6 separate regions of the Homo sapiens genome follow, and regions 1, 2, 4, 5 and 6 are each linked to region 3. Evidence: fine-mapped expression QTL. A gene starts in region 3. Each other region holds a variant in brackets. All regions are shown on one strand. Distances are between the middles of the regions.

Evidence for each region. PIP is the estimated chance that this variant, and not a neighbour inherited with it, causes the effect.
Region 1: its variant is fine-mapped to the expression of ZNF589 in spinal cord (GTEx, PIP above 0.99).
Region 2: its variant is fine-mapped to the expression of ZNF589 in subcutaneous fat (GTEx, PIP above 0.99).
Region 4: its variant is fine-mapped to the expression of ZNF589 in whole blood (TOPMed, PIP above 0.99).
Region 5: its variant is fine-mapped to the expression of ZNF589 in whole blood (TOPMed, PIP above 0.99).
Region 6: its variant is fine-mapped to the expression of ZNF589 in whole blood (TOPMed, PIP 0.92).

The regions. Positions count from the first base shown.
Region 1 is chr3:47,763,827-47,767,913 of GRCh38, forward strand. All of the region lies in intron 2 of SMARCC1 (SWI/SNF related BAF chromatin remodeling complex subunit C1), which reads right to left. Among named protein-coding and RNA genes, the nearest start is that of SMARCC1, 16 kb to the right of the region's middle. The variant C/T (reference allele first, on the strand shown) is at 2,461.
Region 2 is chr3:48,652,748-48,656,834 of GRCh38, forward strand. It overlaps CELSR3 (cadherin EGF LAG seven-pass G-type receptor 3), which reads right to left. Exons shown (of 35, transcript NM_001407.3): 2 at 3,951-4,087; 3 at 3,393-3,618; 4 at 2,989-3,104; 5 at 2,559-2,647; 6 at 2,297-2,454; 7 at 1,542-1,705; 8 at 1,131-1,256; 9 at 872-1,041; 10 at 255-440. Among named protein-coding and RNA genes, the nearest start is that of CELSR3, 8.1 kb to the right of the region's middle. RefSeq lists an enhancer at 3,467-4,087 and a silencer at 3,552-3,781. The variant G/A (reference allele first, on the strand shown) is at 2,061.
Region 3 is chr3:48,239,514-48,243,600 of GRCh38, forward strand. It overlaps ZNF589 (zinc finger protein 589), which reads left to right and starts at 1,591. Exons shown (of 4, transcript NM_016089.3): 1 at 1,591-1,701. The coding sequence starts at 1,659. RefSeq lists enhancers at 746-1,040, 1,358-2,275, 1,466-1,760.
Region 4 is chr3:48,280,885-48,284,971 of GRCh38, forward strand. No RefSeq gene overlaps it. Among named protein-coding and RNA genes, the nearest start is that of NME6, 18 kb to the right of the region's middle. The variant G/T (reference allele first, on the strand shown) is at 2,192.
Region 5 is chr3:48,331,684-48,335,770 of GRCh38, forward strand. SPINK8 (serine peptidase inhibitor Kazal type 8 (putative)) reads right to left here and starts at 1,978. Exons shown (of 8, transcript NM_001080525.3): 1 at 1,852-1,978; 2 at 683-788. RefSeq lists a silencer at 2,323-2,523. The variant C/T (reference allele first, on the strand shown) is at 2,261.
Region 6 is chr3:48,217,818-48,221,904 of GRCh38, forward strand. No RefSeq gene overlaps it. Among named protein-coding and RNA genes, the nearest start is that of CAMP, 3.6 kb to the right of the region's middle. The variant C/T (reference allele first, on the strand shown) is at 2,094.

The sequences.
Region 1 (4,087 bases), 480 kb before region 3:
TCCTACCTCAGCCTCCCAAAGTAGCTGGGACCACAGGCATGCACCACCACACCAAGCTAATTTTTTTTTATTTTTTGTAGACGGCTCTCACCATGTTGTCCAGGCTGGTCTCAAACTCCTGGGCTCAAGGACTCCTCTAGCCTCAGCCACCCAAAATGCTAAGATTATAAGCATGAACCACTGCACCCAGCCTTTCTCTTTAGGAAAAAAAAAAGAGAAAGAGATATTGATGGGATTTCGCTCTATCACTCAGGCTAGAGTGCAGCAGTAGTACTACTGTAACTCATGGCAGCCTCTAACTCCTGGGATCAAGTGATCCTCCTGGGTCAGCTCCCAAGTAGTTGGGACCACAATCACACACCACCATGCACGACTAATTTTTAGTTTTTCTGATAAATAGGGTCTCAATATGTTGCTCAAGCTGGTCTCAAACTCCTTGCCTCATGTGACCCTCCTACTTCAGTCTCCCAAGTAGTCTGGATTACAGGCATGAGCCAGTGTGCCCAGCTAAATATGTACTGTTCACTGTACATTGGCCATACTTCAGCAAAGCTGTAGGACACATTACAGGGAGAGAGAGAAAGATGAAAAAAGTAAAAATATAGAAAAAATAAATAAATGAAACATCAATCAAATAAATAAGTACAATGTCAGTGAACTCAGGTTTCTACCTACGAATCCACATGGTACGGAGTACAAACCTGCACTGAAGTTGATCATATAGCTTTCCAGAGCCTTGCCCACCACCTGGTCCAGCATGCCCTCTGCCTGGAATACTAGTCCATGTCTCCAGCACAGCAGCCCATATTCTGCAGCCTACTGAGCTCTATCTAACTGGTCATGCTACATCATGTAGGCTCACTGCCCTTGCACATGAATTATAAAGGCCAGAAGCTAGCTAACTAGATTTTTCAGATTTAACTATTCTTCTACAGTAATTTGTTTTATCCACACGTATGTGGCTGAGCAGTTCAGTTAGACTATTTGTTTTCTCCATGTTGGCAAATTATTTCCTACATGGCCCCCAAGTTACAAGAATATCTATGAGTTCATTAGTACAAAATTCAAAAACAAGCAAAACATAATACTATATTATTCAGGGATGCACACTAACACAGTGATACCTATAAAGAAAAGCAAGGAGGCCAGGCGCGGTGGCTCACGCCTGTAATCCCAGCACTTTGGGAGGCTGAGGCAGGCAGACCACCTGAGGTCGGGAGTTCAAGACCAGCCTGAACAACATGGAGAAACCCTGTCTCTACCAAAAATGCAAAATTAGCCGGGCGTGGTGGCGCATGCCTGTAATCCCAGCTAGTCAGGAGGCTGAAGCAAGAGAACCGCTTGAACTCGGGAGGCAGAGGTTGCAGTAAGCCGAGATCGTGCCATTGCACGCCAGCCTGAGCAACAAGAGAGAAACTCTGTCTCAAAAACAAAAACATACAAAAAAAAAAACGGCAAGGAAAAGATTATCTGTGGGGAAAAAGAGGAGTTTATGGTTGGGGAAGGAACACATACGTTTGTTAGGGTTGTTAGCAATTTCTGACCTGGACTGTGGTTAAATGGATGTTCTCTTTATAATTATTTAAGTCAAAATTTATTTTACTCACTTTCTATATATTTTACAATAGGAAGTTGTTTAAAAAAAAAAAGAAAGAAACTAAACCATTATTCCACAAGTAAATTTCCTACACTATTTTGCTTAAACAGGTGCTCATATTCCACTTTCATCAGACAGAGTTCTAAGCTACAAACTCAAATGCTCACTTCAAATATATATACAACACTTACGGTCTCCTTCCTAGTCCCATGTTCCCAAAGATAGTCTCTCCATTCTGAAATTCATACAACAGCAGAGTGAAATCAGTTCAGGAATATAATATTCTACATTTTTCCTCCAGTTGCAAATTAATTTTTTTTTTTTTTTGAGATGGAGTCTCACTCTGTCGCCCAGGCTGGAGTACAGTGGCATGATCTTGGCTCACTGCAACCTCCGCCTCCTGGGGGCTAGCAGTTCTCCTGCCTCAGCCTCCCGAGCAGCTGGGATTACAGGCGCCTGCCACCACACCCGGGTAATTTTTGTATTTGTAGTAGAGACAGGGTTTCACCATGTTGGCCAGGCTGGTTTCGAACTCCTGACCTCAGGTGATCCACCTACCTCAGCCTCCCAAAGTGCTGGGATTACAGGCGTGAGCCACTGCCCCCAGCCTAAATGATTTTTTTAAGTGCAATGACAGGTTTACAATTTTGGGCATAAGGGTACATGTTCTCAAGATCTCCTGGAGCTGTGTCACGTAAAAAAGAAAACAAAATCTTGGATATCTCCCAAACACAATTAAAATCCAGTTACTTGAGACTCTCACTTAACCTTCTATATTTCTTACTCTCAGAGCTTTCCTGTTTTTTTAAACACAGATGCTTATAATCCATTTTAAAATGCAGAATAAAAAAACAGCTCTAGGC[C/T]GGGCACTGTGGCTCATGTCTGTAAACCCAGGACTTTGGGGGGCCAAGGCGGAAAGACTGCCTGAGCCCAGGAGTTCGAGAACAGTCTGGGCAACAGGGCAAAACCCTGTCTCTACAAAAAAAAAAAACAAAAATTAGCAGGGTGTAGTGGTGCATGCTTGTCCCAACTACTCAGGAGGGTGAGGTGGGAGGATCTACCTGAGTCTGGAAAGTCATGGTCGAATATGCAGTGAGTTGAGATCATGCCACTGCACTCCAGCCTGAGTGACAGAGTGAGAGAGACCCTGTCTCAAAAAAAGAAAAACAGCTCTATCCTATTATTACAATTATGTTTACATTATGTATGCACACGTACTAAAGCCTTGGAGGGCTTGTGGGAAAATTAGAAACTTTACTTGTAGTGAAGGTAAAATATATTTTTCTTTTTTGTTTTATACCCACATCTTCTTAGCAATTTTTTTTGTTTCAAATCATGTGTTTGGTAATGCAATATACCTTTAGCCTTAGCCTTATGAAATGCTTGGTTCTTTCTAAATCTCTCAGCATTTGATAGAACAAGAGCCAGCTGTCCGACATCCAGCATGACTTGGGAAGTTACTATATAAAGTTCCACTCTAGCTGGGCATGGTGGCTCACGCCTGTAATCCCAGCACTTTGGGAAGCCGAGGCATGCGGATCACGAGGTCAGATCAAGACCATCCTGGCTAACACAGTGAAACCCTGTCTCTACTAAAATACAAAACAAAATTAGCCGGGCGTGGTGGCGGGCACCTGTTGTCCCAGCTACTTGGGAGGCTGAGGCAGGAGAATCGCCTGAACCCAGGAGGCGGAAGTTGCAGTGAGCCGAGATCACACCACTGCACTCCAGCCTGGGCAACAGAGCATGATTCTGTCTCCAAAAAGAAAAAAAAAAAAAAAAAAAAAGGTTCCACTCTGATTTTTTTCTTTTCCTTTTTCTCTTTTTTTTTTTGAGATGGAGTTTCGCTCTTGTTGCCCAGGCTGGAGTGCAATGGGCACAATCTCGGCTCACTATAAACTCCACCTCCCGGGTTCAAGTGATTCTCCTGCCTCGGCCTCCTGAGTAGCTGGGATTACAGGCATGTACCACCACACTCGGCTAATTTTTTATTTTTAGTAGACATGGAGTTTCTCCATGTTGGTCAGGCTGGTCTCGAACTCTCAACCTGAGGTGATCCACCCACTTCAGCCTCCCAAAGTGCTGGGATTACAAGGTGTGAGCCACCGCACCCAGCCTCCACTCTGATTTAAAAAAAAAAAAAAAAAGTCCAAATAGTGAACTCGGCCGGGTGCGGTGGCTCACGCCTGTAATCCCAGCACCTTGGGAGGCCGAGGCGGGTGGATCACAAGTTCAGGAGTTCGAGACCAGCTTGGCCAACATGGAGAAACCCCGTCTATACTAAAAATACAAAAATTAGCTGGGCGTGGTGGTGGGCGCCTGTAATCCCAGGTCCTCGGGAGGCTGAGGCAGGAGAATAGTTTGAACCCGGGAGGCAGAGGTTGCAGTGAGCCAAGACTGCGCCATTGCACTCCAGCCTGGACAACGACAACAACAACAAAAAAACAGTGAACTCTTTTTTTTTTTTTAAGACAGAGTCTCAGCTCACTG
Region 2 (4,087 bases), 410 kb after region 3:
GGAATCAGGCAAAGTGCTGGCTACAGAGGTTCCCCAAGACCAGGCCCCAAATCTGGCACAAAGAGGGCTTGAGAGTGGACCAACTTGGCTGGTGGGTGGGCTCAGTGCAAGGATATATGGTGGGGAACTAGGGGTAGAACATCAGACTCAGTGCAGTGGAGGGAACTGAGAGGAGCTGGACTAGAGGTGGGGTCAAATAAGGCGGATCTGGTTGGAAGGCTGAGAACAGACTACCCCGGGGTCAGAGGCCAGACCTGGAAGAGGCTAAAGTCCAGTGAGACCATAAGGACATGGTGGCCCCGCCGGCCACCTGGTTCCTCCTGCAACTCCAGCCGCAGATCGTGCCACCGGCCATCACTGACAGTCACCTGGTCCAGAAGGAGATGGGAAGCACGGCCCGAGCCCCTGGTCACTGTCACAGACAGTAACCCCCGATCTAGCTGTGGGCAGAGATGCATAGCCCTGGGGTTAGAGCCCCATGTGGGCTGGGACTTGGAGGTGAGATCAGAGGGCTCAGAGGTCAGGAATATCAGAGGTCAGAACAGTGGGGTCAAGGTTATACCTGGCACAAAGGGCACTGTGCCAGGGGACATCATGTTGCTGATATGGGGTCAGGGGGCAGAGGATAGGACCAGGTGTTGTGGGTGGGTTGGTGCAGCTTGCATAAGAGAGAGCTATGCTGGAGCCCTGCACCTGCAGAGGATATAATGATGGAAAGAGAATCAAGGGCTAGGGTCCAGAGCAGGGTCAAGTGTGGTTGGGACACCTGGCAGAAAAGTATGCTGTGTGACCAACCTGAACCCACAAGAATGTCAGTGGCGGCCTAAGAGACTGAGAACTGAGGGTATAGGGGTGAGCAGGGTGGACACACCTGGCAAAGGAGCGTGCTGTGTGGCCCAGCCTGCACTTGCATCAGGACCCCCTGCGTTGCCCGTGTCCGAAATGCCAGCCCCAGGTACCATGGCACAGACACAGCCATGTCACTTCCAAAGTTCCAGCTCAGTGTGCCGTTGCCACGGAAATGGTGGGGATGGGCCATAGCTGAGTGGATAAGAGAAACAGGGTTACAGCCCCTGCCCCAGGAACAGATCTGACCCTGCAGGCCCCTCTGCCCCATGCTGCCCACTTACTAAGCTGACAGTCTTTGCCGCCGAAGCCCACAGGGCAGTCGCAGCTGAAGCTGCCCCAGCGCTCCGAGCAGAAGCCACTGTTCTTGCAGGGGCCTGAGTCACAAAAGTGTAGCTTGGCTTGGCAGCCTGGGAGAGGAAAGCACATGGCGGACATGAGAACAAGGGTTGGGGGGCACAAGTGCTGGACAGGACTTTAGTGTCCAGAGGGGCTGAAAGAGACCAAGATCTCAGCCCCATTTCCCATTTTCTTTCGATGAGTGGGGTTGGTAAGAGTCAGGCCCTAAAATCTGGGCTGTAGCATGGTGCTTGCCACCAAAGGAGACTGGCTTGAAGTCAGGTATGGAGTCCTCCACTTCCTCCCTATGATGGGGACAGGGCCATGGGCTAGGCTGGTGGAAGCTTCAGGCCTACCTGCCATGGTGCCATTATTTGCGACAAAAGCCGCCATGTCCACTCGGCGGCCATCAATGTGCAGGTCCCGCATACAGCCGATGAAGTCCTTATGGGATACGGGGAAGTTCTCGGGGAGGTTGGGGACACCTCCCAGAAGAAGAGGGCCCGTCAGGTCCAGGGACCTGGGGATCAGGGGTCTGGGTCATTGGTGGGACTGGGGCCAGAGTAGAGTTGCTCCTGGGGGGCCACAGGAAGCAGGGGGGTAGGACCCAGAGGGTAGGGTGATTGAGGGAGGAAAATAAGGCCGAGCTGTGGAAGGAGTTAGGATCTTACTTCAGTTGGGGTGCAAAGGGGCACCCGTGATGGGCCGATGGTCTGGGGAAAGGTAGGTGAATGGGGGTTGAGAGCTATGATGAAAGAATGAGGCATCTGGCTGGCTGGGGAGGGGATGGAGACGTGAAGACTCTGGGGGACTGGACATGAGATGAAGGGACTCGGAGGGGATGTGGGACATTAGTGAGACTGGGGTGGGGAGGT[G/A]GAGGCTTTGGAGGACTGCCTGGGGACTGTGTGTGGGAGGAGGGAGTATGGGGTGGAATACAGGATTGGGGGCTAGGGTGAGTAGGCTTTCAGGGTCTTTGAGAGGAGAGGGGAATCTTGGTGGTTTGGGGGAAAGATGGGAGAGTTTGGCAGGATGGGATGAGGAATGGGATGTGAAGGGTTGGAGTGGGCTTTGGTAGGCAGGGGACAAGGGGACTAGGGGGCAGGGGCCTCACTTCTTGGAGCTTGTTTGCACACCAGCAGCCGCGCATGAGTAGTTGCCAATCTCAGCACCAAACTGCAGAGCCACGGCCACATCACAATCATCCACGCTTAGCACAGCCACCTTGTCCTTGGAGGGGCCCTGTGCACCCCCTAGGGCATCTGTCCGGGGCTGAAGACGCAGGCACACCAGTCAACAGTGCCCCCAGTAACCCCTGAGGAGCAGAAGTCAGCATCCCAACTCCCCTCATACCCGATGCCAGGGATGGCCCCCACCTTGTTGTAGTATCTCAGATGCACTGTATGCCATTGCCCGTCACTCAAGCCCCCTGGAACTGTGGGGCTGACCACGGTGTTGGATTCACCTGGAGGGGAGATGCATGTGGAATCATCAGGAGCAGCGGAGTCGCCCCATCCCACCCGTCATATAAGCACAACCATTCCCAGGGCCACCCTGGATGCATCAGATCAGTCCCCCCACTGGTGACCACAATGGCTGGCTCAGAGTGCCTTTGAACAGACAGGAGAAACAGACTTCTTGGAGGGAGGGACCTTCCCACAGGGAATGGCCAAGGAGCTAGGTCTTCAGGGCTTGCATGGCGTGGAGTGTGTGCTCAGGTGCACAGTGAAGCAAACCTGAGGGGACTTGGGCCCTGCGTCCTCCAGCACACACGCACCCTTTCGCCGTCACATCCGGGGCACCCACCCGTGGAATATGTGAGCCGCACTTGGCCAGCCACGAGTTCCAGGGCCAGGAAGTCGTGCTTCTCGTTCAGGCGCCCGTTGTAGAAGAGCAGCCCGCTCTGCTGCACTGTCGCGAACCTGGGCGGGGTGGGAGGGGGTTGCGGGGGTGGGAGCGTCAGGAGCAGGGTACCACTTCACACCCACCATCCCTGCGAGGAGAAGGGGCTGGGGCGAGAGAGGAAGCGACGAGGGACGGCGGGACCGACCGGGGGGACGCGGGTGCAGCGAGGTCAGGAGACCCCGGGCGGGGCGTCAGGGGAGGGGCGGTGTCTCATGGGGATGCCAGGACGGGGCAGTCAGGAATCTGAGTCAGGGCGGGTAGGTGGGGGCGGCGGGGAGGCGCTCAGACACGGGGCGGGCACCTACGAGAGGGACAGCGTAAGGTGGAATCGCTGCCGCAGGCCGCGAAACATGACGAACGAACTGGGCGGGAAGGAGCGCGCAGCCACCTCGCAGCGCGGGCCCTCGAAGGCGCCGCCTGCCGGGCACTGGCAGCGAAAGCCGCCGTTGGGCGCGTCGGTGCAGGTGCCCCCGTTGCGGCAGACGCCCGGCACGCAGCGGCCGGCCTCGGTGTCCAGCTCGCAGTCCTCTCCTGGGGGCCAAGCCGCGGTCAGAGGCGGTCACGCCCACGCCCGCCCCTGCTCCGGCCCCTTCAAAGACCGCGCGCCCAGAGGCCGGGTGCCAAGACCCCCGAAAGGTCGCCCTCTTCGGTGGACACGCCCCTTCCGTCTGGCCCCGCCCCCTCCCCAGTCTCATCGCTGCCTCGGCGGCGGCCCCTTCCGGCCACGCTCTACGGCTTCTGGCCTAAGCGCGTCCATACCAGGCCGTGGCCTCAGAAGTGACTCCCAGTACTCACTCGCATTGTGGTCCCGCCCCCAGCCTTGGCCCGTGCTTCCCCCAGCTCTGGCCCGGCGCCCTGCTCACCGGTGAAGCGCGGGCGGCAGACGCACGTGTAGCCTCCCTCGCGCCGCGCGCAGGCTCCGCCGTTGCGACATGGGTTGGAGTAGCAGAGGTCGAGCTCGGTCTCGCAAAAGTCTCCCGTGAATCCGGGCGGGCAGCGG
Region 3 (4,087 bases):
TTGTAATCCCGGCTACTCAGGAGGTTGAGGCAGGAGAATCGCTTGAACCCAGGAGAGGGAGGTTGCAGTGAGCCGAGATGGCACCACTGCACTCCAGCATGGTAGACAGAGTGAGACTCCGTGTTCTTTTCCCTAAAAAAAAAAAAAGAGTAATTGGGGAAGTTGTGCTTCAAAAGAGTAATTGGGGAAGTTGTGCGTCTTAGGGCCTCTGGAATAATGGCTGGTAATATTTAGAATTCCAGCCCTTCTCATCCTAATTTGGTGGCTGGTGGCCTTTCATTCATTTTACAAGAACAGTTTAGCCCTTGGGAAGGGCTATTATTTAAGCTATAAACTGAATTCCTTCCCAAGGCTACTTTGGCCTATGCCCAGAAGTGGACAAAGACAGTTTAGAGGTTGAAAGGAAGATGAGGTGGGTTAGATCTGATATCTTTTACTGTCATTGATAAGGCTCTGATGACTGGAGGAACACCAGGGTCCTTGGTCTCTGATAGGCTTAATAACACAGACACACGTGGAGTGGTTTTAAGGAGCGAAAAGTTTAATAGGCAAGAAAGAAGGAAGGAAGACGAAAACAGCTCCCCCATACAGAGACAGAGGGAGCGGGGATTCCAACAAAGAGAAAGCGCCGTGTGCGGAAAAGTGGCTGCTTATCTGAGGATGCTGGAGGAGGCGGTGTCTGGTTTCCATAGGGCTCAGGGGATTAGTTTGATCAGATGTGTCATTTATGTGGCAGCCAAAAACCTGGCCCTCCCACCCTAGCTTTTTAATATGCAAATGTAGGGCTCCATGAAGTTCTACACACGTGGGAATATGTGGGGGGTGGCCATGTTGCCAGGCACATGTCAGGGCAAAGAAAAGGACGGCGGGAATCGCCATGTTTGGGTGCGTCCAGTTTCTAATGGCCTGTATTTCCATATCAAAGCTTGCCATCCTGCTCTAGGAGCCCAGGCTTTCCTGCTAGACAAGAAACCTTTCTGGAGCTGCTTTAAAAGAAACAAAAACTTCCCAAGGACCCCTTTCCTTCTCTATCTGCTTAAAATAATTTCTTAATAACTCCTATAACATCATAATTTCCTTAGGTATAATTTTGCAAAGGCGGTTTCAAAAGCTCTTTGGGGTCCTCAGTAATTTTTAAGAGTGTAAAAGGATTTTAACAACAACAAGTTTGCGAACCACTGTCCTTGAGAAGCTCTCCATGGATGCGCATGAGTCTGTCCAATTGGAGTCCTGGTGTATTTCTACATTAGATACCACACAGCAGTGAACACACAATGAACAGGTCAACACGTGTCATTATAGAACTGCGCAAAAGAGCTAGTAGCAGGCATTGTAAGTGTATTTATATAATGTTTACAACCATGGAAAACAACACTATATTTTGCTTATGGGTACCTGTGGTAAGCACAACCCCAAATATTGCGGCCGAGGGGGACCTAGAAGGTCAAAGTGCGCCTCAGCATTTTCTCTCGCCCTGCACAAGCCGCATTTCGCCCCGAGAACTACGCTTCCCGGCAGGCTGCGCGCCGCGCGGTGACGCACTTCACCCAGTCCTGCTTCTTTCTTCTGGCGCCGCCAGTGGCCCGCGGTGCGCATTCTAATCCGTTTCACACACGGTGCTGCTACCTCGTTTGCTTCGTGCGTGCGTGCGCGCGCAGATGTGGGCCCCGCGGGAGCAGCTACTGGGCTGGACTGCGGAAGGTGAGTCGGGGCCGCGAGATCGCCTCCCCCATTCGGTGCTCCAGCCGCAGGCGCCGCGCAGGCGTCGGCCGTATCCACCAGGGATGCGCGTGGGGTGCGAGCTGTGTGAGGCGCTGACTACCCCTACAGCGGCTCTTACTCCCCTGGGGGGCCAGGTTCCTCCCTAGGTGTCCCGTACAGTCTCCACGGTGCTCACTCCACGACTCTTCACCGGGCATCCTGCACTTGTGCACTCCGGCAGTCATTGGCCATAAATGGCTGCTGAGCATTTGAGATGTGTGGAGTGCAACTGAAGAACAGCATTTTGTATTATTATATTATATCATATTTATTTTGAGACGGAGTCTCGCTCTGTCGCCCAGGCTGGAGTGCAGTGGCGCGATCTCCGTTCACTGCAATCTCCGTCTCCCGGGTTCAAGCAGTTCTCTGCCTCAGCCTGCCGAGCAGCTGGGATTACAGGCGCCCTCCACCACGCCTGGCTAATTTTTGTATTTTTAGTAGAGACGGGGATTTCACCATGTTGGCCAGGCTGGTTTTGAACTCCAGACCTCGTGATCCGCCCACCTCGGCCTCCCAAAGTGCTGGGATTACAGGCGTGAGCCACCGCGCCCGGAGTATATTATATTTTTATATTTTTTGAGTCGGTCCGGAGTGCAGTGGCGGGATCTAGGCTCACTGCAGCCTCCGCTTTCCCAGGCTCAAGTGATTCTCGTGCCTCAGCTTCCGGAGTAGCTGGGATTACAGGCGGCGCCTCACCACCCCGGCTGTTGTATTTTTAGTAGAGAGGGGATTTCGCCATATTTGCCAGGCTGGTCTCGAACTCCTGGCCTCAAGCAATCCACCCACCTTGGCCTCCCACAATGTTGGGATTACAGGTGTTAGCCACCCCACCCGGCCCAAAAGACTTTTTTTTTGGAGACAGAGTCTTGCTCTGTAGCCCAGGCTGGAGTGCAGTGGGCGATCTCTGCTCACTGCAACCTCTTTCTCCCAGGTTCCAGCGATTCTCCTGCCTCAGCCTACCAAGCGGCTGGAATTACAGGGACACGCCACCACGCCCGGCTATTTTTTTGTATTTTTAGTAGAGGCGGGGTTTCATCATGTTGGCCAGGCCGGTCTTGAACTCCTGACCCCAGATGATCCACCTGCCTCGGCCTCCCAAAGTGTTGGGATTACAGGTGGGAGCTACCACACCCGGCCCCAAATGACTTTGGATGTAACAACAGGAACAGTCTAGAACAGGGCTGGGCAAATTTTTTTCTGTTTGGTTTTTTTAGAAACAGGGTCTCCCTATGTTGCCCAGGCTGGTCTCCAACTCCTGGGCTCAAGGGATCCTCCCGCCTCGGTCTCCCAAAGTGCTAGGATTATAGGCGTGAGCCACTGCACCTGGTCTTGCAAACGTTTTCTTTTAAGGGCCAGGTGGTAAATGTTTCAGGCTTTGTAGGCCACACGGTCTTTGTTACGACTAGTGGTCTGCTGTTGTGTGAAAGCAGCCAAAGACCATAGGTAAACGAATGAGCATTGCCGTGTTCCAATAAAACTTTCTTTATAGACATTGAAATTTGAATTTTGGCTGAGTGCAGTGGCTCACGCCTGTAATCCCAGCACTTTGGGAGGCCAAGGCAGGAGGATCTCTTGAGCCCAGGAGTTCAAGACCAGCCTGGTCAACATGGCAACACCCCATCTCTACTTTAAAAATAAAATAAAATAAAATAAGCTGGGTGTGGTGCCGTACACCTGTAATCCCAGCTACTCTGAGGCTGAGGCGCAAGAATTGCTTGAACCTTGGAGGCAGAGGTTTCAGTGAGCCGAGATCGCATGACTGCACTCCAGCTTGGGTAACAGAATGAGACTCTAAAAAAAAAAAAGGAAATTTGAATTTCATATATAATTTTCATTATTATGAAATATTCTGTTTCTGATTTTTTTTTCAGCCAATTAAAAATGTAAAAACTGGCCCAGCATGGTGGCTCACGCCTGTAATCCCAGCACTTTGGAAGGCTGAGGCTAGGATCACTTGAGCCCAGAAGTTTGAGACCAGCCTGGGCAACATAGTGAGACTTCATCTTTGTGTTAAAATTTTTTTTTTCTGAAGTAAAGACTATTCTTAGCCTTTGGGTGGTATAACAACAGGTGGCAGGCTGGATTTGGCTTGTGTGTAGTTTGCCAAGCCATTGTTCAGCATGTAGCTGTTTGTCCTGTGTGGGAGCCCTTGTGCCTCCTTCCATCCACTCTTTGAGGGTGGTGGGCTTTGTCTCTGCCTACTGTGCCAAGACCAGTTCAATTGGATAGCAAAGCTAAAGAAAGTAAAGACAATGGACCGGGCGCGGTGACTCACGTTTGTAATCACAGCACTTTGGGAGGCTGAGGCGGGTAGATCACCTGAGGT
Region 4 (4,087 bases), 41 kb after region 3:
ATAACGGCTTGTATTTTTTTTTTTTTTTTCACTACCAAACCTACCTTTGGAAGATGAACCAGTCCTTGAAGCCCAGCTCCCAATCCAGGCTTTTTCCTTTCTGCCTCATTAACCTTGTCCAATCAGGTCTTTGACAGTCATTAAGTCATTAAAGCTGTGATTTCTCCTTCTCCTGGGAGTCTATATTGTTTCTGTTGAGCCGGCCAGAAGGGAACTGAGATCTCTTTATGTGAAAAACCCTGAAAGGGAGAATCCTGTGACATACATGAGCATTCTCAGTACAAGCATGTAAAACATCCGTGAACCGTTATACAGTCTGCAGTGGGAGCCATAACAGGACTCTGGATTGGCTCAAAAGCCCCACTTGGCTGGGCACAGTGGCTCACATCTGTAATCCCAGCACTTTGGGAGGCCAAGGTGGGCGGATCACTTGAGGTCAGGAGTTCGAGACCAGCCTGGCCAACATAGTGAAACCCCATCTCTGCCAGCTGATCTGTTCCCAAGCAAAGAAGAGAGACTACCAAATATATGATGCTGGTAACAATAGCATGCCTATCTTATAGATGAGCAAATAAAAACAAATGTAGATAACTTGGCCATGTTCACACAGCTAATAAGTAATGGTACTTGGCTATAGCCTGGGATTCTGGAAACATCTGGAGTCTGGGTCTGAGAGGCTGTTCTGTTCAATTCCTTGCCCCCAGGCAGCCTGGTTCTTCAAATTCCTCTGGTCTCCTAAAATCTGACTAATTCTGGCCTGGTGTGGTGGCTCATGCCTGTAATCCCAGCACTTTGGAAGGCTGATGTGGGTCGATCACCTGAGATCAGGAGTTCGAGACCAGCCTGGCCAACATGGTGAAACCCTATCTCTACTAAAAATACAAAAATTAGCCAGGCGAGGTGGCTGGCACCTGTAATCCCAGCTACTCAGGAGGCTGAGGCAGGAGAATCACTACTCAGGAGGCAGAGGTTGCAGTGAGCCGAGATCATGCCACTGCACTCCAGCCTTGGCGACAGAGCAAGACTCTGTCTCAAAAAAAAAAAAAAATTCGAATTCTGATACAAGCAAGATTTAGGTGTCTGCTACACCAGACCCATCTCCAGAGACCTCTCAGGTGAGGATTACAACGTGGCCTATTGACATTTTCCAAGCTGGAAACCTCTATGATAAGGCACTGCAGAAATAGTACCTGGTAAACATTTGTACTTCTTATCCCTGGAACATTGGATCCTTCCAGCTTAGAATTCCTTGTTAGTGGGGGCAGAGTGGGGAGATGTTTCTACCAAAGAGCACAGGCAGTGTCTGCTAAACTAATGTTGTTACTAACTTGGTCATTCTGGCTTTCCCACGATGGTAGGCTGGCAGGAAAAGGGAGGAGCCATTATACTTACGTAGGTCATTGACCCTGATTATCATGCATTGGTGATGTTGCTACTCAAGTATATCTGAACCCAGGAGGTTCTGTGAATGCTTCCATACCCAGGCATAACCATCAGTGGGCACTTGCAGCAATCGCAGCTCTCTATCAGGGTAAGTCAGCTAAGGGATCTGACCTCTTGGAAGTGAAAGTCTGTTTTCCCAGTAGGTAAGCATCTTCGACCTGTAAAGGTTGGCTCTGGGGGCAGGAACTATAATATGGTTGATAAAGGAGGGAGGTAATAAGAATCAATTATGGCTTCAGGCCCAGTTGTAATGGTGGGAAATGTTATCTTTTCCACTAATCCACTTATATTGAGTCTTAAGTAGAGATCGCGGCTCACTAGGTTCTTGCCTGACTCTCTGATATGCTGAGCTACATGCAGAGCTGGCGCATGGGCAGACCCAAACACAGGCAGGGGAGGATGGCACTGAACAACTTTTATGCCCCATCTCACGTCCTCTTGGCCCACATTCCTACCCTGACCGTAGCTGCACTCAGGTGAAATCAAAGACCTCCTCACCGTTTCTCTCATGCTCCTTCTAGGAGCTTCTCTGCTGATGCAGTGTGGGAAGCCTGCAAGAGCCCCTCAGCCTTTCTGGCATATGCAAGTCTGGGACTGCAAATGGGTTAGGTCTCCCTGGCAAATCACTGACAACGGATGATGAAACCATTGGACAAACAACCAGCCTCCTAGGCTTTGGTGGGAGACAGAGGACCACCAACTAGATTGAAGCCCATTGTCCACAGTGGTAACCAGCTCAATACCCTAT[G/T]CTTGGGATGGCCTTCCCTTCTCCTTTCTTTTACTCTCTTAGTGTCCTGATGCCTGTTTTCTGAGACCCCTTCCTAAAATAAACTACTTGCACACAAGTCGCCATCTCATGCTCTGCTTTTGGGAGGCCTTGAAGCGTAGTGTATTAGTCTGTTCTCATGCTGCTAGTAAAGCATACCTGAGACTGGGCAATTTATAAAGAAAAGAAGTTGAATTGACTCACAGTTCACATGGCTGGGGAGGCCTCACAATCATGGCTGAAGGCAAATGAGGAGCAAAGTCATGTCTTACATGGTGGCAGGCAAGAGAGCTTGCATAGGGGAAATTCCGTTTATAAAACCATCAGGTCTTATGAGACTTACTTACTGTCACAAGAATAGCACAGGAAAGACCCAACCCAAGATTCAATTACCTCCCACCAGGTCCCTCCCACAACATGTAGGAATTATGGGAGCTACAATTCAAGATGAGATTTGGGTGGGGACACAGCCAAACCATATCACATAGACACAAGAGCTATTGAGACAAGTGTAAGCCTGTGACTCCTGGGACCACTAAACCAGAGGAAGAGCTCTCACCTGAATTATAATTTGTGTTGGGAGGGTTCCCTTTCAAATTTATATTCTGTGGGAACTCATAATCTCAGTTGTCTTCTTACTCTCCTGTATCCTCTGTTCCTCTCTTTTGGCAAAGAACTAGAGCCTATAAATCAATTTGTATTTTACCAGTCCTTCAAAATGTCCATAAGTTGCCAAATTTCCCTAAACTTGACATATTTCTCCTTAAGTCATAATTAAACTTAACAGTCTATACTCATTGTCTTTGTTTCCTTAAATCCAAGTTCTCCATTTTCTTGCCATTTTTCACTTACAGGATCATCTAAAATTTGTGGGTGAGGTTTCTTTACATTGGAAATTTGTAGGGAAACCCCACCTGGAACATCCAAAGATGGGAAAGAGTTGGGGGTCAGAGCCATGGATAAGATACGAACGTCCCAGATTGAGACTATTTAGGAAAAACATGTCTAGTATCTGGGAAGAGATGTTATTTTGAGAGAGAAAAAAGCCACTCAACTGTGGTTGCACTGCCAGAGACCCGGTTACCACCCAGTCATCCATAGCACAGAAAGTCCCCCACTTACAGTGGTTTGACTTCCATTTTTCAACTTTATGATGGTATGAAAATTATAGTACTCAGTAGAAACTGTACTTAGAATTTTGAATTTTGATCTTTTCCCAGGCTAGCAATATGCAATGTGATACTCTCATGATGCTGGGCAGTGGCAGTGAGCCATAGCTCCCAGGCAGCCACACGTTACAAGGGTAAACGATGGACGCTACAGTTCACTGTGCTGCCCGATAATTTTGCCCAACCATAGACTAGTATTTTGTTTGTTTGTTTGCTTTTGTGGCAGTGTCTCACTCTGTCACTCAGGCTGGAGTGCAGTGGTGCAATCTTGGCTCACTGCAACCTTCTCCAGGGCTGAAGCAATCCTCCCACCTCAGCCTCCCAAGTAGCTGGGACTACAGGAACGTGCCACCACACCCAGCTTATATATATATTTTTGGTAGAGACAGGGTTTCACCATGTTGCCCAGGCTGGTCTCGAACTCCTGGCCTCAAGTGATCTGCCCATCTCAGCCTCCCAAAGTGCTGGGATTATAGGCATGAGCCACCGTGCCTGGCCTAATGTAAGTGTTCTAAGCACGTTTAGGTAGGCGAGGCTAAGCTATGATGTCCAGTAGTTTAGGTGTATTAAATGCATTTTTGTCTTATAGTATTTTCAATTTAAGATGGGTTTATCCGGATGTAACCTCATTGTTAAGCTGAGGAGCATCTGTATTACCTTTGTAGGGACAGGCAAACCTATAGGAAACCTAAAATACCAGTCTTGGCTC
Region 5 (4,087 bases), 92 kb after region 3:
GAATGGGGCTTTCAGGCATAATTAGAAAGGTATGTGAAAATGGTAAAGTTCCCTAGTCACAACTTAGTGTCTGGGAGAAGTATCTAGTGACTGCCTGTCCTAGGACCCCTCGGATAGTGACAGATCTGGAGGACAGTTGTCTGGGACAGGAGAGTAAGACTGAGAAGGCCGCGCTAGTGTCCAGCAGACAGTTAACCTCCTGGCCCTCAGTGGTCAAGCATACCTGGGGAGGGTGATGCCAGGGGCTGGCGCTTGCCCCAGGCACCCTCAGTCCTGCTGCTGGATCATCTGGTTAGTGGCTTCTGACTCAGAGGACCTTCATCCCCTGGGGCAGTGGGCCTTCCAGTGATACCCTTGAAATAAGGGGCATGGATGAGGGGGTGGCTTATTTCTATTCGGACAATCTTTTTTAAAGTGTCCTTGTAGACCGCACTGGAATCAAATCCCTATTAGGCATTCGATTTGCCCAGCCTTTCACTTTTCCAGAGCCTCCAAAGTCCACTTGCCTGAAGGCCATGACTAAAGCGGTGGCCTTCTTTTTATCCCGTTTGTCCAGTTCTGCCTGCTCCTTCTGATCTCTATTATAAAAACTGAGGCCAAGTTCTTAGTTTAAGTTTTGTTCCAGGCCTAAGGCGGATTTTGAAGTTTTTTTCTAATGTCTGCAGCTGAGTGATAAACTTACCCTTTAAGATTAGTTGGCCTTCAATAGATCCAGATGACAGAGAGGTATGCTTCCTCAATGCCTCCCTTAGTCTCTCCAGAAAGGCAGTAGGATTTTCTTCCTTTCCCTGTGTTATAGTGGGCATCATTGAATAATTCATAGGCTTCTTCCTAGTTTTTCTTAGTCCTTCTAGCATGCAAGTTAGCAAATGTCTGCGGCACCAATCTCCACATTCTGATTCTGCGTCCCATTGAGGGTCTACACTGGGAACTGCCTGCTGGCCTGTGGGGAATCGTTCTCTTTCCTCTGTTGTCATCCTATCATTGACCTGACTGAGATACCAGAGATTGCCAAACTCTTGGGCTGCAGTTATAGCGGCACTTCTCTCATTTGGGGTTAGTATCTGATCTAGCAGTAACATTATGTCTCTCCATGTCAGATCAAAGGATTGTCCTAACCCTTGTAAAACATCAATATAGCCATCAGGGTTATTTGAGAATTTACCTAGGTCTATTTTAATTTGCTTCAAGTCTGAGAGGGAAAAAGGTACACACACTCTGGGCTGAATTCTCCTCCTCCCACCACTTCAAGGGGGCATAATCTGGGAATATTGGCACTCTTTGGTTCATTGTTTACCCCTTTCTCTATCTCCTTTGGCACCGTTTGTGTTGAAGGGGGGTCATTATTAGTTGGGGAAGGAGCCGGGGGAACGCCGGGGCAGGGGGGTAGATTCTGAGGGCTTCCTGTAGGGCATAAATCACACTTTTAACATAATTGTGAGTTGTCTCTTAATGAAAAGAAAGTTTGCACATATGGCACTTCGCTCCATTTGCCCTATTTTCTACAAAAGAAGTCTAGCTGTAAGATGGTGTTATAATTTATACTTCCCTTGGAGGGCATGTTTCTCCCTCTTGAAGAGGATATTGTGGCCAGGGGTACTGCAGAAGAATATAAGTCGTTTCTTTCTTAGCATCTGAGGGTCAAATTGGTCCTAATTCTCTAGAATACATCTTAGGGGCGTTTTTGCCTGGGAGGGGGGAACGTTTAAAAAGAACATAGGGATGCCAGCACCCCTAGTCATTTTCTGATGAGCATTAGTCCTAGAGCGTCCTCTGTGGTCCTAATGCTTATTCCTTTTCAGGGTGCGTAACCACCCACGGACCTCTGCTTATCAGATTAGTTACACTCACCGATGTAGCAGTCCTGCACCTGTTTTCCTGCCCTTCTTGACCACAAAGAAAGGGGTCTGGGCTGCTGGATTCTAGTGGTCCTTTACCAGCGTGCCTGACATTGCCTTTGCACTCAGGAGTGAGTTCTAGAGCTGGGCTGGGTTTCTGAGTATTTCATAACAACCCAGTTGCCCCATCAAGATGCATTTTCATAAACAACAGTTCTTATGCAAATTCGTTTCAGAGAGGGTGTAGGTAACCTTTTGAGTCAGGATTGAGATAGAGTTTTTGCCCACTAGGGCCTTTGTCCTTTTCCTTTGTAGGAATATGCCTTAATTATCGAACTTAAGATTTTGTTGCCCTGGATTAAGTCCTTTTGGGTACGAAATATGAGAGATGGCTCCTGTTTATCCTATGTGCCTTTTTCCTA[C/T]GAGAAGGAGAGCGAGGAGAAAAAGATGGGCTTGCTCTTTTTGTAAGTACTTTAAGGCTTGGCTGAGTGCAAACAGCTCGCAGTTTGTGCAGACCAATTATGAGGCAATTCTCCTAACTCTGCTTCCACAAGAGTTTCCTTATCAATTACTGAATACCCATTGTGGTTTTTTCCTCAATCGCCTGGGAGGAACCATCTATCGTCCTATCCTAAAGGAAGTTCCTCCTAGGTCTGGTTGGACCTTTGCATGGCAATTAAGATTTAAATCCCCTGTTAGGAAATCTGCTGGGTTAAGGGAATTATCAGTGGTTGGTGTTAAATCACCTTTTTCTAACAGAATAGCCCCATACTTTAAGAATTTTGAGCTAGTAAGCTACCTTTTTTTTTTTTTTTTTTTGGTCTTAGGATTGTTCTGAACTGGTGAGGTGTGCTCACAATGAGGTTTCCTCTAAAGGTTATTTTTCTACTTTATTCTGTTAGCAAAGCAGTTGCCACTACAGATTGAATGCATTTGGGCCATCCACGGGTTACTGGGTTCAGGATTTTTGATAGGAAGGCTATGGGTTGTCAGTGGTCTCAGTGTTTTCGGGCTACGCCCTTGTTTACACTGACAACAAGGTAGTATTGGAGTATTATAGGGTCGTGGAGAAGACCTTTAATTATCAATTATAGGTTCTAAATTTACCTTGGCTTTTAAAGGAATAGGGTACACTGTTTTTTCTTTACTACCTCTCTCTTTCCCTTTTTTCTTTCTTTCTCTCTTTGACTTTCTGCCTCTTCCTCTCTCTGTCTGTCTTTTTTTAGATGGATTTTGGAAACGCAGTGGAAGGACGTTCACTTGTTGCCCCAGTTTGCCACTATAGGAACATGTGCCTCCCTTTAATTTACTCAAATTCGTTTTCATCCTGATCTATTATGTTGTTGTAGACTCAGTTCCAGTTGTTAAAATACTGGGTTATCAGTTCTAAGGGCCTGGCCAAGGAGCCAAGGCTTGGAGATTGTATTGCAGGGGGTAGTAAACTGGGTAGAAATTAGGGGAGGAGAGCATCTTACACAATGGGAGAGCGATCTTCCTAGCTATTTACAAACTTGGGGCCCTGGCAAGGGTGGTGGGGAATGGGTCCCACATAACAGCCCATGTTGACAGCTATATACCTAAATTGGGAGGGACACCAGGGGCAAGACTCCCTGGGTTCATAGCCTAGATATCTAAGGCCACAGCATAGAGCTTCCTTAGATCTCTTTGGAGATACAACTTGCTCTAATACTTGGGAGAGGAAATGAAAGTCTGAAGCATTAGTACCTAGGAGGCAGGGATTGGAGGAAGTAGATTCAGAGGTAAGGAGAATTTTTGGGGCTACACTTTCAAGAAAGTCATGGTCGGGACCCAGGAGGTATGGGTCAGAAGGAAAGGTAGGGGTGCACACGTGGGCAACTGTTGAGTAGAGACTTCTGGCTGCACCATGATCTCAACCAGCCAATGCCGGGAGTTCAGGACGACAGCTTTCTGCCTCTAGTCGGCCCTCGGCTTCCCCCCAGGAAATTGTGAAAGCGGAAGCTGGTTCCAGGCAGACCAACGCTCCTAACCCCAAAGGGTTGGGGGTTGTTAGAAAGCCTTTTCCCAGAAAGCCTCACAGCTGAGTCTTAAGTCCAGTGGCCATGCTAATCATTTTTAACTGGCTGACAGGTGCCCGGTATTTCCTCTGATTCTAAGGAAGGATAGGACAGGATAGCAAGCTAAAGTGGTTCAATATTACTCACCACTTTGGAGAATACCTGTACGGGCCAACAGCTGTTACCAGGCAGGTCTTTGTTCTTAGAGCTCCT
Region 6 (4,087 bases), 22 kb before region 3:
CCCAGGAGAAACCATGCTGTGGTTTGACCGTCCCTCTCCCCTGCAAAGGACGACAGCGGGTTCCTCTGAGTGGTATATCCAATATCCAGGTCTTTCCTTTATGGCTGGGCAGAGCCTCCACCCCCGGACACCATGTCCCAGGCCCTTCTTATGAATCAGTCTAGGAAACAAAGGCACATTTACTGGAAACTGCCTATCACTATCCCGTGCTGTGTAGTGTTTCATTTGACAAATGATTTCTGAACTTGGGTCTGGACCTGCTGGGAGCGGCTCTTACCCATCTGGGCCCTCTGAGGGCAGAGCCCAATGCCGATTCTGAGAGGGGCCCAGTGAGGAAAGGAATCCTGACCTTAGGGAGTCTGTGGGCTGAAGGGAATGCAGGGGCTTGCCCTTGGGAGTCCCTGTCTGAGGGACAGACAAGACTGTCACACTTGGGAAGCCCTTGGCCTGGGAAGGAGATGCAGCCCCATAATCAGGAGCCTGGACAGAAGGAGAACTTGGGGAAGCCTTGTCTAAGGGGCATCCCAGGGCTTCATGACTCTTGTCTGAGGACAACTGTGGTCTTACCCCTGGGACTAGCCTGATGGATAAACACAGCCTGAGACTAAAGGTGGGGTTGGTGAGCTGTCTCCTAGCCTGGTGTTGGTGGGGGACGCATCACAGAGGATGCCAACTGGGGGCTGAAATCCAGGGGACAACCTGGAGAGGCTGAGTCTGAGCCAAAATATGACAGGGGCCTGGGGTAGTAGGTTATGTTATTAGCAAGAAGGGGAGCACAGTTCCCCAACAAGATACATATGCACAGTTTCATGCGTGCATATGTATCTTGTTGGGGAAGAGTTGGGCTAAGGCCATTGCCAAGTAAGGAGACCTGACCCTGACCTCACTTGCCAAAACATCCCGGGAGTACAGGACTTGACAGTGGACATGCACTTGCTTACTCACTGTTGCATTTGAACAAACACTGCAGGGCATCTCATTCCCATCCTACAAATATGAGAACATTATCAAGAAAACAAGGCAACTTGCTCGAAGTCACACAGCTAGTAATCGACGGTGCTTGAGACCCTCCACCCCAGGTCTCTTGGCAATACAATTCTGCAAGTGAAAGAAAGGCAGAAGGAGGAACTTGTCCTGAGTCTGGGCAGAACCTGTGATTGGCATTCCCTGTCTGCCACAGGGTATAAGCATACCCTGCCCCATGCCCCAGGTTTAGGGAAGGAAACGTCTGCCTTTGAGTATATATTCAATACATTGCTCCAATGCATTGCTGTCTACAAGGTTGGGGCTACTGTCCCAATTTTTGCACGAGAAAGGTTCAGGGAGGGAGGCAATTTACCAGAAGTTAGCTCTTGGCCTGAGTCACCCCAATTTTCTATTTTTGAGTCAGGGTCTTGCTCTGTTGCCCTGACTGGATACAGTGGCATGATCACAGCTCACGGTAGCCTCCATCTTCTGGGCTCAAGCAATCCTCCCACCTTAGCCTCCCAAGTAGCTGGGACCACAGGTGCACACCACCATGCCCAGCTAATTTTAAAATTTTTTTGTAGAGACAGGGCCTCGCTCTGTTGCCCAGGCTGGTCTCGAACTCCTGTCCTGAAGCACCATGCTTGGCCAACAAAGTTACTATCTCTGGGAGCACACTATGTTTACTTCTGAAGCATTAACCTAACAGGTCACATTAATAACAACAAAAACAATTCACATGTACTGGCCACAGACCATGTTGTATTTGACCCTCACAACAATTCTACAAACTAGACATTGTGATGATCATCCCTGTTCTACAGATGAGGAGGCAGGAGAGCAGACACATCGGTATGCAGATACACAGCTGGTCGCAGCAGGGCTGAGCCAGGAACCCAGTCAGCCTCATGAGGGAACCTGGGCTCTTTGCCTGCAAAGCCCTGGGCTTTCTGTGCTGACTATAGATTCTGGGCACAGGGAGGGACAGGGACAGTGACTCACCCACAGAGACAGAGGCTGGTGACGAATATGGTTCCTGGGATTCCCATCCCAGGACTCCCTCCCCAGTGCTCCCCAAGGGGATGAACAAACTGCCTGCTTGGTTCTCTACTTTTCAGACAAGTTGG[C/T]CATTCTGATGAAGGCTGTCTCAGGGGCAAGCAGGCCTGAGGAGGTGGGTGCTTCCACCAGGACAACCAGGGCTGCAGACACGGAGCCAGAGAGGGAACGCAGAGTGGGGGCTAAGCTGGGCTTTGTTCGCCAATGGGGGAGGGATTGTGGAGTGGGAGAGGGTAGCTCCAGCATCTGCTCATCTGTGGAAAGTCTCTCAGAGCCTTCAGCAGTCCCAGTGCACCAGGTTCCCTGATCACATTGTGTAGGAGTTGGAGCCTCCTGGGTCTGCAGGAGAGGAAGGGGCCACTTAGAGAAGTCAGGGTGGGAGATTCAGAGAGAGAGAGGAAAGAGAGAGAGATAGAGAGACAGAGGGACAGGGGCTGCCCAGGCCTTTGTGAAGGGACATTTATCTAGCCCTCAAGTCTTGATGTGGAAAAGCCTAACTTTTTTTTTTTTTTTGAGACGGAGTCTTACACTCTTGCCCAGGCTGGAGTGCAGTGGCGCCATCTCAGCTCACTGCAAGCTCCGCCTCCTGGGTTCACACCATTCTCCTGCCTCAGCCTCCCAAGTAGCTGGGACTACAGGCGCATGCCACCACACCCAGCTAGAGACGGGGTTTCACTGTGTTAGCCAGGATGGTCTCAATCTCCTGACCTCATGATCAGGCCACCTCGGCCTTCCAAAGTGCTGGGATTACGGGCGTGAGCCACCGCGCCCGGCTAAGCCTCACTTTTCTTTTCTCATTCCGCCTTGCCTAGAATCTTCTGATCACTCTATTAATGGGGTGAGCCATTATGAAAAAGGCGAGCTGGTGAGAGCCTCCTTTCTCCCTCTCTAGGAGGAAGGGGCAGCCATGGGTTCTAAAGGTCTGAAGTCAGCCGCCCTACCTCAGGTAGTGGACACCGACCTGCATGTGCCGAGGGCAGGACTCACTCCTGGAACCTGGGAAGCCTGGACCTTGTGCGATGGCCCTGAGAGGGAAAGCAAGTGCCCCTGAGTCCAGACTTCTGCAGTTGTATCAGAGGGCCTATGCAAGCTGCTTGGGCTCTGGCTGATTTCATGTGAGGGCGTGTCCAGCACTGGCCGAAGTGGAACGTCCTCTTGAGGCAGTTGGAAAGGGGCTCTGAATATGCCAGATCTGACCTAGAGGAACACAGGAGCATGCAGCTCTCACGCCCTAGCCTAAGGACTAACATTGCCATCTGCTTCTCCCCGGTTTGGCTTCTTGGGGATCCTGAAGCCAGTCAGAAGGGTGGAGGAAGCAGGAGAGCCCTGAGAGGTCTGATATCCCTGGATGGCCCTTTTCCCAACAGCCATAAAAGACCTGATGTGCAAGCCCTGCTTGACCAACAGGCCACTGGGGCAACACTTGAACTGTGAAACCAGGTTGCACAGAAGCCCACTTCTTCCTTCTCTCAAGGCCAGGTGTGCAACCGGTGGCCTTCGTCCAGGCTTCCACCTTCCAGGAGCCCTGCTGTCCAAGCCCCCAAGTGTCCCACAGGCCAACTGAGGTCAAGAGGTACCCCAGGCCTCAGGGCCACATGGCCAGTCCACAGAGGAGCTGGGACCGGAATTTGCCTCATGGACGCTGGACCCCTCTATCACTTTGGCCCTTTATCTCTCCTGGCTGTGATCTCTCCCTCTCCCAACACCAGCCACCCATCCCAGCTTGGTGTCTCAGCTAGAGCACCAAACAGGGAGTAATTTGAGGTCGAATCAGGAGAGACTTCCTGGAAGATGTAGGGGCAAAGAGGAGATTGCTGTGCCTGGTTGGAGGTCAGGGAAAGCTTCATGAGGTGAAAGGGCAGGCCAAACAGAAGGATCGGGGCAGAGCTGGGAGAAAGAGCAGGAGGCTCAGATGAGCCTATGTGATGGGGGCATACGTGACAGTCTGGCACTTGCAGTGTGCAGGGCTGGGGTGAGGGCAGTGGGAACCAAAAGGCCACAGGCCCTGATGCCAGCCTAGGGGGTGTGTGGGCTCCTGAAGGTAGAGGGTTGAAATGGCCAAATT